Regions from separate parts of the Homo sapiens genome. Here region 2 is linked to region 1. A link means that fine-mapping ties the variant in region 1 to the expression of a gene that starts in the linked region. Tissue or cell type: whole blood. Region 1 holds a variant in brackets; the other region holds the start of a gene. All regions are shown on one strand. Distances are from middle to middle.

What was found. PIP is the estimated chance that this variant, and not a neighbour inherited with it, causes the effect.
Region 2: it holds the start of TPM1, and the variant in region 1 is fine-mapped to the expression of TPM1 in whole blood (INTERVAL, PIP 0.95).

Annotation. Positions count from the first base shown.
Region 1 is chr15:63,076,145-63,078,901 of GRCh38, reverse strand. No RefSeq gene overlaps it. Among named protein-coding and RNA genes, the nearest start is that of TPM1-AS, 28 kb to the right of the region's middle. RefSeq lists an enhancer at 1-152. The variant C/T (reference allele first, on the strand shown) is at 1,423.
Region 2 is chr15:63,041,194-63,043,821 of GRCh38, reverse strand. TPM1 (tropomyosin 1) reads right to left here and starts at 1,075. Exons shown (of 10, transcript NM_001018005.2): 1 at 879-1,075. The coding sequence starts at 992. RefSeq lists enhancers at 1-303, 1,217-2,131.

The DNA of each region.
Region 1 (2,757 bases):
AATCTCCCATCAGTCCTAGTTGTGAGAACAAAAAATTAGAAAAACCCAGTGATCAAAAAGAGGAGAACAAATTATGGCACATTAACCAGAAGACTAGGTGAAGCAACACAGGAAGATGTTTATGCAAAGTTTTTTGAATAAAAACCAAAATTTTGAATAAAAAGCCTTCCATAAACACACAGGCAAAACATATGGAAAATAAGTTTTTTTTTTTCCCAGTGGTGACCTTTTTTTTCCTTCATAGTTTTTCTCTATTGTTTTTATAATGCTTTGTGACAAATAAAAAATGTACACAATTATATGATGGCATGTACCTCATGTGTACATTTTGCTTATTTCCCTTGCAACCCAGTATCCAAATGTGCCAAATAGCTTTTCATTTGAACTTGCAAATTGCTGCATGAAATTTAAATATTCCTTTAAATACACAACCCACATCAATTGCTGTTATACAAATTGGAATGAACTCTTCAGGTTCAAGTAGTTTTTATCCAAATTTAATTATCCATGTTTATCAGTAATACTTTATGTTTCTGGGGTAGGAACCAAAACAAGGAGAGCAAAAGGGGAGCTCCCAGCCCCCAGCAGTTTACATTAAAACAGCACTGAAACCCAATTCTCTCTCGCCCACTGCCCCACTACTCCTCTTTCTTGGAAGGCTGGAAAATGGGTTATCTGGAGACACCCAGGGCTCCTAGCCCATTAGGATTAGGGAGGCTCTGAACCTGGCTGAGGCTTCTGAAGTCTGGCAGCCTGAGCAGATCAGGTCGCTGTCTGCACTAGCGACTATAGCAATCAGCCTGGGGAGGCTTCTCGTGGGAGAAGTGAATGTTAGCGGCGATCCTCATCCATTTGCTTTACCAGAAACCAAAGGCTCCTTCAGACCTCCCTGGTGGAGTAGGAAGCTGATTTTATAGGCTCTAAGAGTATATGTGTGCATTCATTTATGCTCTTTCCTTTAAAGCTTAACAGATGCTCTAGGATTAAAGCAAAGGTATGGTAAGACCAAAAGTTTAAAAACAAACAAACAAACAAACAAACAAACAGAACACAACTACATGGCCTACAGCAAGGAATGAGAGGTGGGTAAGAGGGGAGGATTTTAAAATGAGAATTTGGTAGAAAAAAGCTACAATTATGAACAAAAAATTTCGTAGCCAGAGTAAGTAGTAAAACCAAAGCATTTTTAAACTAGCAGAGCTCTTGTTTCTAAGATTTGAGAGGCCGGGGTGAGTGGTGATTTGCCTGTGGCTGGAGTACCCCTGAGAAAATTATAGAGCATGCCCAGGAGAGCCTTTTCTACTGGTTTTAGATGGTTAGAAATCTACCAGGAAGGGGGCATGACATCTGTTTCCATGCAGTCTTGTATCATTTACTGTCTATTTGCCATGTAATCATATCCTGTTTTATTATTTTTTAGTG[C/T]GTTTGTGCACATATTCAGTTGCTTCCATAGACTCCTTGAGGGCAAGACGTCTATTATACTTTGTCTGTATTGTCCTATAACCCCCAACCTTGAAAACAGACCAGGATTTGCCATCATGATGTTTGCTGGCTTCTCAGCCCCCAGCCCCACAGAGCATCTGCCAAGAGGAGCTGACTCTTCTACTCCTCCGGCCCATCTGAGCCCAAAATACAGTCCCCAAAATACTGTAAAACATTCTTAAATGGAAATACAATTTGTCTTGTAGGCAAAATTATGAATCTTAACTTTCATAATTTTAGTTACTAGAAGACAATATGGAAGCTCTGTGTCTGAGAGAAAGTGAGCAGAACAAGAGATTAGAGTAACAAAAAATTGTAGCCAGAAGGGAAGAACGAAAGCCAGAAAAAGGAGGCATGGCGGATAGGAAGTTTTCAAGTAGAGGGTTAACAACTGAAGAGAGATGAACAGTTTGGCCAGGATTTGAGCCTAGCAACTCTTTGTTGAGGCACATTTTCTTGACATTCCTATTCTTAGGCAAATTATTCTGCCTTTGCTCTTTTTAATTTCTCCGGAAGGTGCTAGGCAGACAGTCCCGGAGTGTTCTGGAAAGGAGTGCTTTGTGTGAAGATAGCAGGAAAACAAATCATGGGAATGACAGGCTTCGAGCTGAGTAACCCAGGGGTTAATCACTTCCCGCTGGCTCAGGCTTCTGAGATGCAGGTATGCTTTGGCCATTCCTAGGAAGCCAGCATCCCCTTCAAAAACAAAAGCCCCTACTGCCTGGGTGTGGGTTCCCATTTCTAATATTTACATCACTGGGCTTTGGGCAACTATACTTAATCCTTTTGGGAATAGTGATGGGGCTCACTTCAGATAAAGGCGTCCTTGACCACAGCACGATTCAAGCAGTTCCTTGGCAAGTGTTTCATTGTGAAGGGTGGTTTTCATAGAGGAAGTGGACTTTGGGGTGAGGTGGGGGAGTGGAGGTGCAGGATGTGGGCAGCCCATCGAATCCCAGCTCACCAGAAGGCCGAAGGGCTATATTATACCAGTGCAGGCATCTGGGAGTTTAACACTGGAGTCATGAGTCTAACCAAGAGTCCCACTGGAAAGGCAGCATTCCAAATCCTTTCTGAGTGTCTCTGGAGTTGAAAACAGACCAGGACTTACCATCATGATGTGTGCTGTCCCCTCTGACCCCATCCCCATGCAGCATCCGCCAAGAGGAGCCAACTCTTCTGCTCCTCCGGCCCCCCTGTGCCCAGCCGGCCCCTCCGGAGACACAACAACTGCTTCCCTGCCACAGACAAAGCATCTTTCACCTTCCCGGTCAT
Region 2 (2,628 bases), 35 kb after region 1:
GCCTCTTCGGCGGCCAGGAGGCTGTCCTCCGCCTTGTGCAGCTCCTCCAGCACCCGGTCCCGCTCGTCCTCCGACACCCGCAGCAACTTCTCCTTGGCCGCGATGTCCTCCTCGAGCTGGGGGCAGCGGCGGGCGGGCGCGGGCGGCCGGCACGGACCGGGTGTTAGACACACACAACACACGGGCGTCGGGTTGGCTGGGGCCCCTCGGGCTCGGGGCGCCGCCGAGTTGGAGTGCAAAGGACCCGAGGTAACTTCCTCTTTACCCGAGCTGGAACCGCTCCGCGGCTCACCCCGCACACCCACCTGCCCTGGGACGAGACTCCTGCCGAGGTCTCAGCGGGCTCAAGTCCACTACTTGGGGACACAGAAGAACGCCACTGCTGGCCTGGCTTTCGGGCTGTAGCCTCCATTCCGCCCCATCTTTGTTCTTAGGTAACAACTCCAGGACTCCCTTCTCCTCCCCAAGTTTAAGGTTCCTTTCTCCCCAGTCAAAAGTCAACGAACTTCTAACACTTGAGTTACTCGACCCCCTTTCTCCATCCCTCGCCCTTCCTTCAAACGTCCCCAGGAACCGGGTGTCCTCCTCCCTCCCCCAAACTGATTCCCAGTCCTGAGAATAAAGCGCCTCTAGGACTTGATTTCGCGGGCCATGGGAACCAGAGAAGGGAAATAAGCGTCCTCAGACCAGACTAAGTTAGACTAAGCCTGGCTCTTGCGTTTCCCTTCCTTCTTTCCAGACGCGCGCCCTGGCCGCCCTGGGTGGTGGTGGGGGTAGGGTGGTGGCTCCCCGAGTCCTCGGGGTGGGGATCCAGCCGGGGGTGCCAGGCTCGAGTCCCGGCGCTCTGGGCGCGGGCGCAGGGCCGGGGAGGCGCAGACCTGCTTGCTCCTGTCTTCCGCCGCCTTCTTGTCGGCCTCCGCCTGCTCAGCTCGATCCAAGGCGTTCTCCTTGTCGAGCTTCAGCATCTGCATCTTCTTCTTGATGGCGTCCATGGTGGCGGCGGCGAGGGGCCCTGGGGCTGCAGCAGGAGCGGCGGGGCGAGCGCGCGGTCGGGCGGAGGAGCGGGAGTGCGAGCGCGGAGCCGCCTGCTTCTCCCAGATATGTACTTTCCCAAGGGGGCGACCGCATTCCTCAAGACAGCCAATACTTTTTTGGAAAAGCTTTTTTCTCCTGCCCCCCTTCCTCCTCTCCTCCCTCCGCCCCGTGCCCCCTCCCCGCTCCTCCCGCGGGGGCCGCTCGCCCATTCGCTGCCGGCCGCCGGCCTCCCAGTTGACGGTGGATATGACTATATATGGGGACCCGAGCCGCCGAGGCGGCGGCCGGAGAGGCCGCCCTGTTTCTAAACCTGCGCGCCAGGGAGAGGGCGTTGGGGCCGAGCCGGGGCCGAGGCGCAACCCTCCGCCCTCCGCGTGCCCTTCTCCCAGGGCCGGCACCCAGCCATTAGGGTCCCCAACCGAGCCCGCCCTGAGCTGCCGGAGGCCGGGAGAGCGCGGACCAGGTGGTGGATGCGCGTCGCCCCCCTGTGCCGTCCCCCGGCGCGCTTAGCCAAAGGCCCGGGGGCTTCCCAGCCGTGCTGCACCCCGCGTCAGGGTCAGTGCGCTCTCGGCACCCGCCAGCGCCTCCCCGGCAGCTCTCAGCCAGCCAGGTGTCATCCTGCGCGCTCACGCTCTGGAAACTCAACTGCAGCAGAGAAAGGGAGAACGTGGGAGAAAGCCTGGGGCGGCTCTTGAGACTTTCTCTGCGGGCGCGGGTCAGAGAGGCAGGGGGCGGCACAGCGACAGCACACGGAGTCTTGTTTTCTGCCTGCCCTTTCCCCCAGCGGAGGGACAGTCAAATACTTTAGGGACACAGGACTCAGTGGCGTACTTCTGTGCTTGCTGTGCAGTGCCTCCAAAAAGGTGTGCATGTGTGCGTGTGTGTGCGGGTGGCAGTCTAAGGGGAAAGAACATTGAGTTTAGACTCAGGCAATTTGGTCTGTGGTCTCTACTCTGCCACCAGCAACTGTGAGACCTTGTTTGCTGCCCGCGGCTTCCTCAACTTTAAATCCAGCGGGTAGATAATCCCCGAGGTCCCTCCAGATATAACTTGTTATCATTTTTCTTGCACTGATTTTAGGGAGTCGGCCTTCCATGTTAGATGCTTAGGTGCCAGGTTTCGGAAAACATGGGATCGGCGTTAACCTGGCTAAGTCATTGCATCCGCAGCCGCAACTCTGAGGAGGCTCTGCCGTGTGAGCTGTGCTTGGAAGGAGGAGGATTTCCCCCAACACTTCTTATTTTTAACTACTCCTCCCATCTCCCAAGGGGGAAAGGCTGCTTTTTTTCAGAGCTTCAGTGGGAGGGGAGGAGAGGGGGCTGCCCCCAAGCCCTGAGATCAGCTGAGGCAGGGTTGGTGAGGGTCTTGTTAATAGTCCCCACAGAATAATTCACAGTCTGTACTGCATGGTTACCAAATATTCCCCGGACGGTATCTGAGCAGATTAGGCAGGCCAAACAACTTGTAAGTCCTTCAGAGAATGATCAAATTCCTCTCCAAGATTTTATCGGGTTTCTTCCACTAACCTAACTGCCCAGGAGGGAAAAGATACACTGACCTAATGGTCAGAACATTAGATCTGACCATTAGCAT